Linked DNA regions of Homo sapiens: region 2 is linked to region 1. Evidence: fine-mapped expression QTL. Tissue or cell type: whole blood. Region 1 holds a variant in brackets; the other region holds the start of a gene. All regions are shown on one strand. Distances are between the middles of the regions.

Region 1 (8,212 bases):
CATGGTAATAGAATCACTCAGTAGTTTACACACAGGCTGGATCTCTCCACTGAGTGGACTTGGGGCTCCTGCCAGGAGCACTTGGAAAACCCAAGTATTCACCAGGGTGGCGGGGTGAGCAGGGGTGATAGTGGGGGCCTTTTGTCGGGCTGTGGTGGAGAGTGCGGAATTCATTACTCTCAGTGTGTATGCTGCTTTCCTGGCGATCGGAATCTTCATGTCAGGCTGGGTGCTGTGGCTCAAGCCTGTAATTCCACACTTTCGGAGGCCAGGGCAGGCAGATCGCTTGAGCCCAGGAGTTCGAGACCAACCTGGGCAACGTGGTGAAACCCCATCTTTACTAAAAATACAAAAATGAGCCAGGCATGGTATTGCATGCTGTAGCCCCAGCCACTTGAGGGGCTGAGGTGGAAGGATCACTTGAGCCCAGGAGGTTGAGGCTGCAGTGAGCTGAGACCAGACCACTTCACTCCAGCCTGGGAGACAGAGCAAGACCCTGTCTCCAAAAAAAAAAAAAATTAAAAAGTAATTAGAAAATAAAAACAGAATATTCATGTCCCACATATGCAGATATTTTCTCTTTAGATATTGGAGACATTATCCTTGTGACACATTCGTAGTTTCTGATAAGGGCTACGTTCGATTCTGTCTTTTGTTTTCAAGACAGGGTCTCATTCTGTCACCCAGGCTGGAGTGCAGTGTTGTGATCTTGGCTCACTGCAACCTCAACCTCTCCGGCACAAGCAGTCCTCTGACTTCAGCCTCCTGAGTAGCTGGGACTATAGGTGTGTGCCACCACATCCAGCTAAGTTTTGTAATTTTGTGGTGACAGAGTTTTGCCATGTTGCCCAGGCTGGTTGAGAGCTTGATTGTTTTCATTAACTTGACATGGTTATAGAGTGTACAGGCTGGGCACGGTGGCTCATACCTGTCAACCCAGCACTTTGGGAGGCCAAGTCAGGAGGATCACTTGATCCAGGAGCTCAAGACCAGGCTGAGCAACATAGTGGGACCCCATCTCTACAAAAAAAAAAAAGTATTAGCTAGGTGTGGTAGCATGTGCTTGTAGTCTCAGCTACTTGGGAGGCTGAGGTGGGAGGATTGCTTGAGCCTGGGAGGTTGAGGCTGCAGTGAGCTGTCTATGATGGTGCCACTGCACACCAGCCTGGGTGACAGAGTGAGACCTTGCCTCAGAAAAAGAAAGTATAGTGTTCAATTTACATTAGCTCCATTTCTGTGTGGTGCTTCTCATAACCCACACTGCATTCATAACCTGATGAAACTGGAGGGCCACATGGCGTGTCCCTACAGGTGGCTGTTCACATGCTGTGTGGGGGTTCTTATTTACCCTTCCAGGGGAGCATGTTTCCTGGCTGTGTCGTCAGATACTGTGGTTTACGCTGTTCCGGAGTCTGGAGGCCTCTGTGTGCCTTTGCATCTCTTTCCCAACTAATTTGCACAGCTGCTGTGGAGGCCCTCATGAATGACCTCTTTCTTTCCTTTCTTCTTTTCTAGCTACTCTCGGAACCGCACGTTTGACACGTACATTGGGCAGGGCTACGTGATTCCTGGGATGGATGAAGGTCTACTTGGTGTTTGCATTGGAGAAAAGCGAAGGATTGTGGTCCCGCCTCACCTGGGGTATGGAGAGGAAGGAAGAGGTGAGCATCAGCATCACCTGCCTTCCTCACTAGCTGTGGCTGCTTCCACATTGCTTGAAACAGGGCTTCTTTTTCTTTTTCTTCTTTCTTTTTGAGATAGGGTCTCCCTCTGTTGAACAGGCTGGAAAGTGTAGTGTGTGATCATCGTGTACTATGGCCTGGAACTCTTGGCCTCAAGTGATCCTCTTGCCTCAGCCTTCAGAGTAGCTGGCACTACAGGCACGCACCACCACACCCTGCACAGAACTTCTTGAGAGCCAAAATATTGAAGCTAAAGTCCAGCTTAAGACTGGAATTCCCAAATAGATTTAGTTTCTAGAGTTGTCCTGTTATTTCTCCTTGTTTCTCTGCCCATTTTCCTTTACCTTTTGAAAATGTTAAATCCTACACCAAAGTCAAAAGCACGTTATGGTGAATTCCACTTTGTTTTGCCAGTTGTTAACATTTTGCTATATTTGATCTCTTTTTATATTTATTTATTTATTTTGGGCTGAACCATTGAAAGTAAGTGCAAAAGCCCCTCTTTGGTTTTTGTTTTATATATTATAAAATTCACCCATTTAAGTATACAATTTAGTGACTTTTAGAACATTTAGTGGGTTATGTCACCATCACTATAATCCTGTTTTAGAACATTTTTGTCACCCTCATACCACACTTCCTTTTAAAAGTTACACAAATCATACATGTTGACTTTAGAAAAAGAAAATACAGTTAAGCAAAGAAATCCTGCCACCCAGAAATAAAGATTTTTTTTCCTTTTTTTCTTTTTTCTTTTTTTGAGATAGAGTCTCATTCTGTCACCCAGGCTGGAGTACAGTGGCACGATCTTGGCTCACTGCAACCTCTGCCTCCTGGGTTCAGGTGAGTCTCGTGCCTTAGCCTCCCAAGTAGCTGGGACTACAGGCATGTGCCACCACGCCTGGCTAATTTTTTTTTTTAATTTTCAGTAGAGATGGAGTTTCACTATGTTGGCCAGGCTAGTCTCAAACTCCTGGCCCAAGTGATCTGCCCACCTTGGCTTCCCAAAGTGCTGGGATTATAGATGTGAGCGCCATGCCATGCCAGAAACAAATATTGTTAATCTTAATCTGGTAGGCAGAATATTCAGCCCCTCCAAGTATCTATGTTCTAATCCCCAGAACCTGTGAGTATGTTACCTTACTTTATTTTGTTTTGAGACAAAGTCTTGTTCTGTTGCCCAGGCTGGAGTGCAGTGGTAAGATAAGCTCCTAACTCACTGCAGCCTCCAGCTTCTGTGTTAAAGTGATCCTCCTGCATCAGCCTCCTGAGTAGCTAGGACTACATGTGTGTGCTACCATGCACGGCTAATTCAAAAGCAATTTTTTTTTTTTTGTAAAGACAGACATGGTCTTGCTATGTTTCCCAGGCTTGTCTGGAACTCCTGAGCTCAAGCAATCCTCCCACCTTGGCCTTCTGAAGTGCTGGGATGACAGGTGTGAGCCACCATGCCTAGCCTCCTGTTACCTTATTAAAAGGGACTTTACAGATTTGATTAAGGATCTTGAGATAGGAATAGTATTCTAGATTATCCAGGTGGCCTCAAAATACTTGCAACAGTCTTTGTAAAAGGGAGGCAGGGGGTCAGACCGGGGAAAAAGTGCTAAACTGCTGACTTAGAAGATACAGAAGGAGGACCCTGTCAGGGAATGAAGGTGGCCCCGAGAGGCTGGAAAAGATGGAAACACATTCTCCCCGGCAGCCTCCAAAAGGAACATATCCCTAACAATACCTTGAATTTATGCTTCTGCCTTCCAGAATTAGGGGAATCCGTTTGCGTTGTTTTAAGCCAACAAGTTTGTGGTATTTTGCTGCAGCAACAGTAGGAAACAAATGCAGCCATGAAGTGAATGTCCTTCTGTACCTTTGAGTTTATGTATAGGTTTAAAAAAAAATGCCCACCTACACTAATCAATACGGACAAACATGGGATTGTCTATGCGTATTACTTTGTGATTTCTCTCTTCACCTAATTTGTGGTGAACAACAGATATGTTGTGAACAACTTTCTATGCTATGTATTTTAATGGCTGCTCCCTCGCTTAGCAATAGTTGATGCAGTATTTATTTTGTTTTTGTATTCTTTTGCTGATGGAGGCTGGCCTTGCTGGCTGTACATTTATTTTGTTAGTTCTGTTCTGTTTTTTTGTTGATACATCATATGTATCTTGAGAGTTTTCCCAGTAGTGTTCATC[C/G]CAGAGGATCCAAGAAACGTCAAGTTGGTTGGAAGGTAGGTTGTACAATGGAGAAATATTTTTTTCTCCCTGACTTAAATTTCTGATTGATTAAACCACAACAGATCACAGCTTAAGATCCATTCGACAGGGCTTTCTTCACACATCCTGCTTGTCTAGTGTCTTGATTCTCTATTGCTTTTTATCGTGTGGATTTCTACTTCTAGTCAAATATAAACAGAAACAGATAAATACTTTCTGAATGTTCTTGTTTCTTTATGGCCTGAGGACTAATCTTTCCTTTCTTTGAAAAGAATGCATTGATGGAAAACATTTGCTTAAATTACTTTTTTTCCTCTTGGCTTTCTATCAAGTATGAGACAGAGCTCTGCAAAGAATTATATAAGCCTCTGGGAAGCAGCCGAAGGCTCGTAAATTTTCTGGGCAATGAGACTCCTTCATCCTGAATCACGTTGCTGTGGGAGGAGGGCACCCTGAGTGACCCTGAGGTATAAACCCCAAGTGCTCTTGAGTGGAGTCTGCCTCTGTCCTCTCCTGATCAGCACCCTTGGCCTCTTTGTGGGGGTTACATAGGAGCTCGTGCTGATCCCTGAGGGGCTGACCCGAGAGGGGTCAGGATGCTGAAACTGTCTTCTTAGTGGCTTCTTCACTGCATACCACAGGGCCAGGCACATTGTGAATGTTTGGCAAATATTTGTGGAAGGAATGAATTGTGGGCTGACCGTGTGCTCTCAGCCTCTATCAGCATTTCATTCTGTCACAGCCATTTTCCCCTGCAAGATTGGTGGAGGGGAAAGGGTAGGCCTCCTGGGAGAGGTTCTGGATCTTTCTGCCATCTGCTTTGTTCCATGGGTCAGCCCTGAAATTAGGGCATTTGGATGGGTTTGCAGCCTCAAAGTGGAGAATGGATTCTGCCTGCGAGGATGTGTAAGCATCACTTCATCGATGGTTTGCTGTTACTCAACTTCCAGATTACCTTTTGAGCACCCTTTTAGGAAAGAGAGGAAAGTTAATAAATTACATTTTACCCACTGTGTGTCTGGGACTTCTTGCACATGAACTCATTCAAACCTGGAAACAGTCTTCTGAGGCATCATTACCCTCATTGTTTAGAAATATAATGAGGCCCAGAGAGTTCCACCCATGTGTCCAAGGCCACAATAGCTAATCCATGATGGAGCTGGAATTGGACCCAGGGCTCTCTGACCCATATGTGTCCTAGACAGACAGAAAGAATGAGTCCCCATTAGGTAGTGACTTGTTGATACCCATATGTGGAGAACCGAGACCTCAAACCAGAAGTCCTAGAGCTCTCAGAGGAAACACACCCGCTCAGAGGAAACCCACCTTCCTCAGAGGAAACCCACTCCCCTCAGAAGAAACCCACCCCCGCAGAGGAAACCCACCCCCTCAGAGGAAACCCACCCCCCTCAGAGGAAACTGACTCTCTGCAGAGGAAACCCACCCCCCGCAGAGGAAACCCACCCACCGCAGAGGAAACCCACCACCAGCAGAGGAAATCCACCCCCAGCAGGAGCTGCAGAGTTTCTTGGGTGGGCTATTGGCCGCTTTTAAGTTTTTCTCATCTGTATCTCTTCTGAGGGAGGCATCCTCATGGTGAGAACAGAATGATGACTTCTGCATTGGTTAAGGGTTTATACAGAGAGGAGGTTGGTGTTGGAGCCACGTTGGACTATTTCTGCCCGTTTGCTGGTCAGCACTCATTTCTATACTTAATCTACAAATAGCTTTGTGGAAGTCAGAGCAAGATAGAGGGATAGAGGTTCGAAGCCTTGGTGCTGCCTGGGGTAGGTGGGGTCTATGGTTCAAGGCTCTGATCTTCATTTTTGCAGGCGGAGAAACTCCATCTATCCATCCATCAAAGATTTATTGAGTTTCTTCATGACCAGGCCCTGCTCACGGTGTTAGGGATTCAGCAGAAAGAAACACAAACAAAACTTCCTACGCACACAGAGAGTGTTTCCTTGTTGACGCCCTCAATAATGTGTGTGCCTCAGAGGTTATCAGGCACCTGGGAGACTGACTCACGTTAACTTCCTAGAAGCTGACATACTCACCTGATGCTACATGGTTCCTTGACTGGGTGTGAATCGACCTCTACACTGGTTGGAATTCTTGTGCCTGGAATCCTCGGGGCCTGAGAGGCTGAGTTCATTTGACTGCTGACATCAGATCCCAGGGATGTGGGTGGTTCCAGATGCATTCCCTTTTGCCCTGGAGAAGGCCCTGCACCTGAATGCATCTTGGAGGGGAGATTATATTTGAATTGATAAAATTTGGTGACTGCTTAGCTCAGTGTTAGAAGTTTTTAAAATTTGTGGTAAAATATACTTAACATCTTTACCTTGTTAACCATTTTAAGTGTACAGTTTAGTGGCATCAAATATATTCACAATGTTGTATAACCATTACTATCATCTACACTCAGAACTCTTTCATCATCCCCAACATAAACCCATTACACAATAACTCCCGATTCCTCCCTCCTATCAACCTCTGACAACCACCTTTCTTTCTGTCTCTACCAATTTGCCTATTCTAAGTGCCTCACTTGAGTGGAATCATACAATATTTCTCTTTCTGTGTCTGTCTTATTTTACTTAGCATAATGTTTTCAAGGTCTATTTGTATTTTAGCATTTATCAAAATTTCAAGCTGGGCGCGGTGGCTCACGCCTGTAATCCCAGCACTTTGGGAGGCTGAAGCAGGCGGATAACCTGAGGTCAGGAGTTCAAGATCAGCCTGGCCAACATGGTGAAACCCTGTCTCTACTAAAAACACAAAAATTAGCCAGGTGTGGTGGTACGCGTCTGTAATCTCAGCTGAGGCAGGGAAATCGCTTGAACCCGGGGGACGGAGGTTGCGGTGAGCTGAGAACATGCCAATGCACTCCAGCCTGGATGACAGAGCAAGACTCCATCTCAAAAAAAAAAAATTAATTCCTCATTTCTGGCTAATAAATTTCATTCCTTTTTATTGCTGAATGAATATTCCATTGGATGTATATACTACATTTTGTTGATCAGTTCGTCTGGTGATGAACACTTAGGCTGTTTCTACTTTTTGTCTGTTGTGAATAATGCTTAATGCTTCTGTGAATATGAGTGTACAAATATCTGTTCGCATCTCCAGCTTCAATTCTTTTGTATATATACCCAAGAAAGATATTTTTATTTAATGTTTTCTTGAAATATAATTCACATACTATAAAAATAATCATGTTAAAGTTTACAATTTAGTTGTTTTTAGTATATTAACCAGGTAACATAACCATTACCTCTACCTAATTCCAGCACAGTTTCATCACTCCAAAAAGTAACCCATAACCATTAGCGGTCACTCTCCGTACCCTGTCCTCATCCATCCACTTCCCCCACGCTGGCAACAGGTAGTCTATTTCTTGTCTGTATGGATTTGCTTATGCTGGATGTTTCCATATCCCTGGAATCCTACAGTATGTGGCCTTTTGTGTCTGGCTTCTTTCACTTAGCATAATGTTTTCGGGTTCATTCCCAGGTGATTTTTAACAGGTTACCAAGGTTGAGGAACCATAGATCTGCCTCTGCAGACACCCACCCTGTCCATGTGTGTTAGCTTCCCACACAGAGCCATCCGTGGCCTGGCTTTGAGCAGCCTTCTGGCCAATGGCAGGCTGTACTTCCTGGTTCCTGTGGGAAGGAGCCTGCACCCCACTCCACCCACACCAGCAGCCCCTGTTTTGAGTGAGTAGCAGGCACCTGTGTTCTGCTATTAAAGCACACGCTTCTCAAATTATTACCTTTAACTTTGGCCAGCCCCAAAATTTGTACCTCCATTTTCTCAGGATTTTAATGAGAATTAAACAATACATGTTTAATTTAGAAGAATGCCTGGTACTCAATAAACGCCTATTAAATATGAGCGTGAGTGTGTTTCTATTAGAGATAGGAGAGAGACCAATCAAGAAGCAGACACAGAAAAGTACGTGTTGGGACAGGAGGTAAGGAGGGACTGTTGGAGTTTGTGTATCTCTATCTGAATTTTGTCATTAGCTGTGTTATTCTCTTGAATAAGTAATATCATGTCTGAATTTTTCATTTCTTTCTTTCTTTCTTTTTTGAGGACGGAGTCTCACTCTGTTGCCCAGGCTAGAGTACAGTGGTGCAATCCTAACTCACTGTAGCCTTGACCTCCTGGCCTCAAGCAATCCTCCTGCCTCAACCTCCCGAGTATCTGGGACTACAAGTGCTCACCACCACGCCCAGCTAATTTTTTTGTAGAGACATTTGGCTGTGTTGCCTAGGCTGGTCTCAAACCCCTGGCCTCAAGTGATCC
Region 2 (8,212 bases), 34 kb before region 1:
ACTCTGTTGCCCAGGCTGGAGTGCAGTGGTGTGATCTGGGCTCACTGCAACCTCCGTCCCTGGGGTTCAAGTGATTCTCCTGCCTCAGCCTCCCGAGTAGCTGGGATTACAGATGCCTGCCACCACGCCCAGCTAATTTTTGTATTTTTAGTAGAGACGGGGTTTCACCATCTTGGCCAGGCTGGTCTTGAACTCCTGACCTCATGATCCACCCGCCTCAGCCTCTCAAAGTGCTGGGATTACAGGCGTGAGCCACCATGCCTGGCCGTAAGTTGTTTTTTTTTTTTTTTTTTTTTTTTTTTTGAGATGGAGTCTTGCTCTGTCGCCAGGCTGGAGTGCAGTGGTGCGATCTCAACTCACTGCAAGCTCCCCTTCCCGGGTTCACGCCATTCTCCTGCCTCAGCCTCCTGAGTAGCTGGGACTACAGGCGCCCGCTACCACGCCCGGCTAATTTTTGTATTTTTAGTAGAGATGGGGTTTCACCGTGTTAGCCAGGATGGTCTCGATCTCCTGTCCTCGCGATCCGCCCGCCTCGGCCTCCCAAAGTGTTGGGATTACAGGCGTGAGCCACAGCGCCTGGCCAAGTATTTTTTTAATTTATCATTTGTCTTTAAAAAATTTGTGACATTTTTTAATAGCAAGATTTTTTTTTTCTTTTTTGAGACAGAGTCGTGGTATGTTGCCCAGGCTGGACTTGAACTTCTGGGCTCAAGAGATCCTCCCACCTCAGGCTCTCAAGTAGTTAGGACTACAGGCTCCTAGATCCTGCCACCACGAGCAGACATTCATTTTTATTTTATTTTATATATATTTTTAGACAGGCTCTCACTCTGTCACCTAGGCTGGAGTGCAGTGGTGTGATCACAATTCATTGCAGCCTCCATCTTCTAGGTTGAAGATGATCTTCCACCTCAGCCTCCGAAGTAGCTGAACGGGGACTACAGGTGCAGGCCGCCCTGCTCTACCTTTTTTTTTTTTTTTTTTTTTTTTTTTTGAGACAAAGTCTCTCTCTGTCACCCAGGCCAATTGTGCAGTGGTGAAATCATGGCTCACTGCAGCCTCAACATCCAGGGCTCAAGCGATCCTCCAACATCAGCTTCCCAAATAGCTGGGACTACAGGCACACACCACCACATCTGGCTAATTTTTGTTTGGTTTTTGTTTTTCTTTTTGAGACAGGGTATCACTCAGTTGCCCAGGCTGGAGTTTATTTTTTCTGTAAAGTAGTGATTACACCTATGACCTTATACAGAGTTGTCATGAAGATTGGACTTCTTGGCATCTAGTTCAAAAGATCAAGTTTCAAATCCCAAGTCTTTACCAATTAATATGTATTGTATGTTTAGCGTCTGAGCCTAGAAACTAATTCAGCACCAAGATATTTCCCCAAATTGCCGTAAGAGGTCAGTAGGCAAGATAAGTATCATCTGTTTTACAGTCAAGGGTGGAAGTAAGAAGTTACCTGACTTGCCTGAAGCCACGGAGACATAAGTGAAGCAAAGACTGGACCAAAGTATATGTGTAGTGAATGAACTGAATGTCTGAATTCATGCCAATAAAATGTATAACAATTTTTATTATCAATGATTATATACTTCAAAATCAAGGTATTGTTTGACAACACAAAGATGACATGCAAAAGTACTTTTTGGTGGTCAGTGCCATTAATAGACTTAATAGACTACAATCAGAAAGTTTTTTCTTTTTTTTTTTTTTTTTTTTTTGAGATAGAGTTTTGCTCTGTCACCCAGGCTGGAGTGCAATTGTGCGATCTTGGCTCAGTGCAACCTCTGCCTCTGGGGTTCAAGCGATTCTCCTGCCTCAGCCACCGGAGTAGCTGGGATTATAGGCATGCAACACCACACCTAGCTAATTTTTGTACTTTTAGTAGAGACGGGGTTTCACCAGGTTGCCCAGGCTGGTCTCAAACTCCTGAGATCAAGCAATCTGCCCCCCTTGGCCTCCCAAAGTGCTGGGATTACAGGGGTGAGTAATTTTTGTATTTTTTCGTAGAGGTGGGGTTTTGCCATGTTGCCCAGGCTGGTCTCAAACTCCTGGGCTCAAGTGATACTCCTGCCTCGGCCTTCTAAAGTGCCAGGATTACAGAAGTGAGCCACCAGGCCCTCTGTTTGTTTTCAAAATCAGAGGTAGATGTTGAATTTTATCTCATGCCGTTTTGAGTCTATGGCCACATGATCTTAGAGCTTTTTTTCCCTTCTTCTGTCCTATAATTTTATTAATAGGTGTTCTATTTCTAGAATAAGCTCTAAGATGAACAATGAACATTTTTCTTGTTATTCATGTAGTTTCTCATTCGATCCCTGAAACCTAAGATTATAGTAATCTTATAATGATTGTTTTATCTTCATCTTACAGAGAACACTGACATTTTGTTAATTTACAGAAGCTCACCTAGGTAGCCCATGTAATGGTATATTTTTCCTTTAACATACCGTTTTTTAAATTTTTTATTTATTTTTTTTTTGAGGCAGAGTCTCACTCTGTCGCCTGGGCTGGAGTGCAGTGGTGCAATTTAGTGGCACAATCTCGGCTCATTGCAACCTTCGACTCCCAGGTTCCAGCAATTTTTCTGCCTCAGCCTCCCAAGTAGCTGGGACTACAGGCCGTGCCACCACACCCTGCTAATTTTTGTATTTTTAGTAGAGCCAGGGTTTCACCATGTTGGACAGGCTGGTCTTGAACTCCTGACTTCAGGTGATCCAACCACCTCGGCCTCCCAAAGTGCTAGGGTTACAGGTGTGAGCCACTGCGCCTGGCCTAATATGCGGTTGAATCCGATTTTATTACGTTTTATTCAGTATTTTTGCATTTATATTTATAAATTAGATCGTGCCCTGTTTTTTCAGTTTTATTTTTCTTTTTTGTTGCTCTCTTTGCCAGGTTTTGGTATCAGAATTGTGTTTGCTTCCAAAACGAGTTGAGAAAGAGTTGGTGATTTGCTTTCATTATTCCAAAATTTTAATAAATTATAACACCCAATTCCAATTCCAAGTGCATCTGATTACTCTAATGGATTCCTGTGGCTTCTGGGTCTCTATGATGAAGTCCTCCCTGGCATAGGCTCGTATATGGGAGCTTGTAGGATGTCTGCAAGTATCAGCTCACAGTGCGGCCGCTGATGGCTTGGAGGACCCTCACGGTGCCTTAAAACTTTTGCCTAGACAAGTGTCACGGGAGCCTCTCGCAATACATGCCTCCCTTTTCTTTTTTTGGAGACAGTGTCTCGTACTGTCGCCAGGGCTGGTGTGCAGTGGCGCGATCTCGGCTCGCTGCAACCTCCGCCTCCCGGGTTCCAGCGATTCTCCTACCTCAGCCTCCCGAGTAGCTGGGACTACAGGCACGCGCCACCAAGCCTGGCTAATTTTTTTGTATTTTTAGTAGAGACGGGGTTTCATCATGTTGGCCAGGATGGTCTCCATCTCCTGACCTCGTGATCCGCCTGCCTTGGCCTCCCAAAGCGTTGGGATTACAGGCGTGAGCCACGGCGCCCGGCCTTCCTTTTCCTTTAAGCAGTATTAAAAAAAAAAAAAAAAAGTCCTGAAGGATGGTTTCGGTCTCTTTCAAGGTAGACCATACCCTTGTAACTAAGCTTAAAAAATTAAAATCTAATTTTCCCTCCCTCTCCAAAGCAGCAAGGGAAAATTGGATCCACGGCCACGTAGGAGCCCCTCACGGCACCAAACCCGGTGTCTCCAGGGACGGGCGGAGACCAGCGGGTGGGCTTGGGCAGTACGCGCTTTTCTCTTCCGACTTTGGGCCAAAGCCTTGTCCGGAGATCACAGTGTCTCGCTCGGGGACACGCCCTCTCTAGGCCCAGACTTGGTCCCCACTGGAGTTCCCAGCCCCCCTCCCCGCTGCGGCACGCACATTCCCAATGCCGGGCGGGGCAGGGCGCAGCAGGCCCGCCCTCGGCGCGCGGCCAGGCTGGGCTCCTCCCCTGGAGCTGCGGCCGGGAGGGCGGGCGGCCGGGGAGACGGGGTGGCGGCTGCAGCCCGGGTAGGGCCAGGAGACCCGGTCCACGTTTGCAAACGCAGCCGAACGCCCAGGCCGACCCGTGCCGCCCGAGCGCCGCGCTGCGTCCGCGCCACTCTTCTCGCCGCCCCGATGGCGTTCCGGGGCTGGAGGCCCCCGCCGCCACCGCTGCTCCTGCTGCTGCTCTGGGTGACCGGGCAGGCAGCGCCCGTGGCGGGCCTGGGCTCCGACGCGGAGCTGCAGATCGAGCGGCGCTTCGTGCCCGACGAGTGCCCGCGCACCGTGCGCAGCGGCGACTTCGTGCGCTACCACTACGTGGGGACGTTCCCCGACGGCCAGAAGTTCGACTCCAGGTACCGCGCCCTTGGCGCCCGGCGCGGCCTCAGCGGATGCGCGTCCCTCTCTCCGGACAGGCCTTTCCCTCCTGCCGGACCTCCCCTAGCTCCGCCCCGTGCAGCCGCGCTCCTCCCTTCTTCCGCTGCCCAGATCCTCCCGGACCCCAGACCCTCCGCCGCGGGTGAGCCTCCCGGCCCTCACGTGCCCTAGGCTGCCAGCCGGGGACTGGACCCTTGGAGGACCTTGAGCAGCGGGGTTGGGGCAGACCACGTCCTCCCTTTCCTCCCAGCGCATGGACACACGCAAAATCAGTGTAAAATAATCAGTGTAAGTGGAGGCCACGTTGCACAACTGGACCCCCAAGAGTGGATGTTCGTGCCTGCCTCTCTTCGCCCTTTCCTGTTCCTTCCCTCCGCTCCCTTGGGAATCTAGTCAGATGGTGCTTCTCACACAGAACAATGATGAAGAGGCTAGCAGCCCCAAACATACAATGAGCTGTTAACAATGTGTAGGTGTAGTTCTAAGTACTTTCCATATTGTAGTGAACTCATTTAATTGTACAGCAGTCTTGTGAGGTAGGTACTATCACTACCCTCATTTTATCAGTAAGGTAACAAGCAACTGCGGCTAAGAAACGTGTTTAAACAATGGAGTCAGATTGTTTAATCCAACTCCAGAGTCTGTGTGCGCAACTACCACTGCCCTTCCTTTCCTGCCATACAAAAACCTCTCTTGGGGCTGGGCGTGGTGGCTCACGCCTGTAGTCCCAGCACTTTGAGAGAACGAGGCGGGAGGATCGCTTGAGCCCAGGAGTTTGGGGCTGCTGTGAGCTATGATCGTGCCATTGCACTGCAGCCTGGGAGACAGAGAGAGATCCCATCACAAAACAAAACACAACACGACACCTCTCGTGGGCAGGAGGTAGTCCAGGACCGTCACTCTGCTTTATACCAGGCCCTATATCAAGCCCAGAACTCCTTCTCTCAGCTCTGCCTCAGGATCACAGCACTGCTCTCCCGTTTCCCTCCAGTTTAGGTTCGGGGTTAACAGGCCTCTCTTCGTCCAGCACCAGGCTACTCCTCGCCAAGGCTTTTGTTACAAACCCTGGTCTGTGCCAGCACTTCCCTTCGCGAACACTAGATCAGGCAGAGAGAGCTATTTGTTGAGCCCCTGCTATGTGCCCCAAGGCCTAGGGTCATTACGAATATTTTGTAGACTCTTGACTTTTTTGAAGTTCCAGACAATGAATATACAAAAGCTGTTCAGCATAGTATGTGGCACTAGCAAGCGCTTAGAAATGGTCATTCTTACTACCATTTTAGTTACTTTAAAAAAAAAAAACAACAGGCCGGGCGCGGTGGCTCACGCCTGTAATCCCAGCACTTTGGGAGGCCGAGGCGGGCGGATCACGAGGTCAGGAGATCGAGACCATCCTGGCTAACACGGTGAAACCCGGTCTCTACTAAAAATACAAAAAATTAGCCGGGCGAGGTGGCGGGCGCCTGTAATCCCAACTACGCGGGAGGTTGAGACAGGAGAATGGCGTGAACCTGGGAGGCGGAGCCTGCAGTGAGCCGAGACGTGCCACTGCACTCCAACCTGGGTGACAGGGAGACTCCGTCTCAAAAAACAAAACAAAACAAAAAACAAAAAACGAAACAAAAAAAACAGCTTTATTGAGATATAATGCCATACAATTTGCCCATTTGGTGTGTACAATTCAGTGTTTTTTAGTATATTCACAGAGTAGTGCAAACATCACAACTAGCTATTTCCAGAACATTTTCATCACCCCCAAAAAAGAAACGCTGGACCCATTATCAGTCACTCCCCAACCCCAGTTAGACTGCCCTCCAGTCCCTTTCAGCCACGAATCCACTTTATGTCTCTATGGATTTGCCTCTTCTGGACATTTTGTATAAATGGAATCATATAATTTGAGGTGCTTTGTTATTTATTTATAATTGGCTTCTTTCATGGTTCATTTACGGTGTAAGGTATATCAGTACTTCATTCCTTTTTGTGGCTGTATATGTAATATTCCATTGTGTCCATTCATCAGTTGATGGACATTTGGATTGCTTATACTTTTTGGCTATCATGAATGATGTTATGAACATTCATGTGCAAGGTTTTGTGTGGATGTACCTTTTCCTTTTTTTGGATATATACCTAGGAGTTGGAATTGCTGCGTCCTATGGCACCTATGTTATAAACGTTTTGAAGAATAGCCAACCTGTTTCCCCACAATGGCTGCACCATTTTACATTCCCACCAGCAGTGTATGAAGGTTCATAGTTCTCCACGGTCTCAACAACACTTGTACTTGTCTTTTTTTTTTTTTTTTTTTTTGAGATGGAATTTTGCTCTTGTCACCCAGGCTGGAGTGCAATGGTGCGATCACAGCTCACTGCAACCTCCCTGCCTCCCGGGTTCAAGCAATTCTCTTACCTCAGCCTCCTGAGTAGCTGGGATTACAGGTGCCTGCCACCACGCCTGGCTAATTTTTGTATTTTTAGTAGAGACGAGGTTTCACCATGTTGGCCAGGCTGGTCTTGAACTCCTGACCTCAGGTGATCTGCCCACCTCGGCCTCCCAAAGTGCTGGGATTACAGGCGGGAGCCACCACGCCTGGCCTGTGTCTTTGATTATAACCATTTAGTGGGTGTGAAATGATATCTCATTGTGGTTTCGATCTGCATTTCTCTAATGGCTAACGATGTTGAGCATCATATGCGTATTGACCATTTGTGTATCTTCTTTCATGTGCTTCTTTCATAGGGAAGAATTTCTTGCTTGAGTTGATGGTAATTAATTCCAGTAGAACAAGTTGTCCTACTATCTAGAACATCTCTAGGGCTGGCAGCCACTGTGAGGTAGTGTAGGGCAGTTGAAAGAGCATGGAGGATCTACCATCCATTCATCAAACGTTTTTCAGCGTCTATCCCTCAAGAGAGAGACTAGTCCTAGTCTAGTATGCTTCTTCCCCATCCCTACCACTTACAGCCTAGGCTATTACAACATGGTGTGATAAGTACAGTAAGACAGTAGCACACACTCTGTCTCTCATAGAGTTCACACATAGTTCTTACCATGTGCCTTCACATATGTTAACTCATTTAATCTTAGAATAATTTGTTTAACTTCTCAAGACAGTGAGGTAGGTACCTCATTACAAATGAATAAACTGAGGCTCAGAAAGTTCAAATGATTTGCCCAAGGAACATAAGTACTAAGTGGTTGAGTGGAGATTTGAACCCAGGTAGTTCATGGCCATAATCTATGGTCTGTAGTCCACCCATGTATATGACAGAAGAAAGGTAAGTAGCTATGAAAGCACAGAGAAGGTTTAACTATATATTTTTGTGTCTGTGTGTGGGGGAGGTTAGGATGGAATCCTGGTATGGCAGGGATAAGACCCAAGGATGATGAAAATTCACCTGGGAGGAGCTCAGGGGTGTGTCTGCAGACCCCAAGGTCCAGGCTTGTCTTTTGATAAATATTATTATGTGCCTACCACATACCTTTTTGGGTATACAGAGTTCTAGATGCTCTAGCACAGTAGTGTTTAAACTACATATACTTCTGAATCACGTAGAGAGCTTGTTATACAGTTTCCGATTCAGTAGCTCTGGGATAGGGCCTAGGAATTTGCTTTTCTGACAAGTTCCCAGCTGATGCTACTGGTCTGAGGACCACACTTTGAGAACCACTGCTCTAAAACAGGGGTACTGAAATGGGATATCAATTTACAAAAATAAATAAATAGTAAATAAATAAATAGAACAGGGGTCCCTAACCCCTGAGCCATGGACCTGTTGTGGTCTGTGGCCTGTTAGGAACCGGGCTGCACAGCCGGAGGTGAGCAGCAGGTGAGCAAGCA

The links. PIP is the estimated chance that this variant, and not a neighbour inherited with it, causes the effect.
Region 2: it holds the start of FKBP9, and the variant in region 1 is fine-mapped to the expression of FKBP9 in whole blood (INTERVAL, PIP above 0.99).

The regions. Positions count from the first base shown.
Region 1 is chr7:32,986,992-32,995,203 of GRCh38, forward strand. FKBP9 (FKBP prolyl isomerase 9) reads left to right here. Exons shown (of 10, transcript NM_007270.5): 6 at 1,516-1,661. Among named protein-coding and RNA genes, the nearest start is that of FKBP9, 34 kb to the left of the region's middle. The variant C/G (reference allele first, on the strand shown) is at 3,878.
Region 2 is chr7:32,953,449-32,961,660 of GRCh38, forward strand. FKBP9 (FKBP prolyl isomerase 9) reads left to right here and starts at 3,992. Exons shown (of 10, transcript NM_007270.5): 1 at 3,992-4,346. The coding sequence starts at 4,126. RefSeq lists enhancers at 2,839-3,789, 3,639-3,688 and a silencer at 3,779-4,248.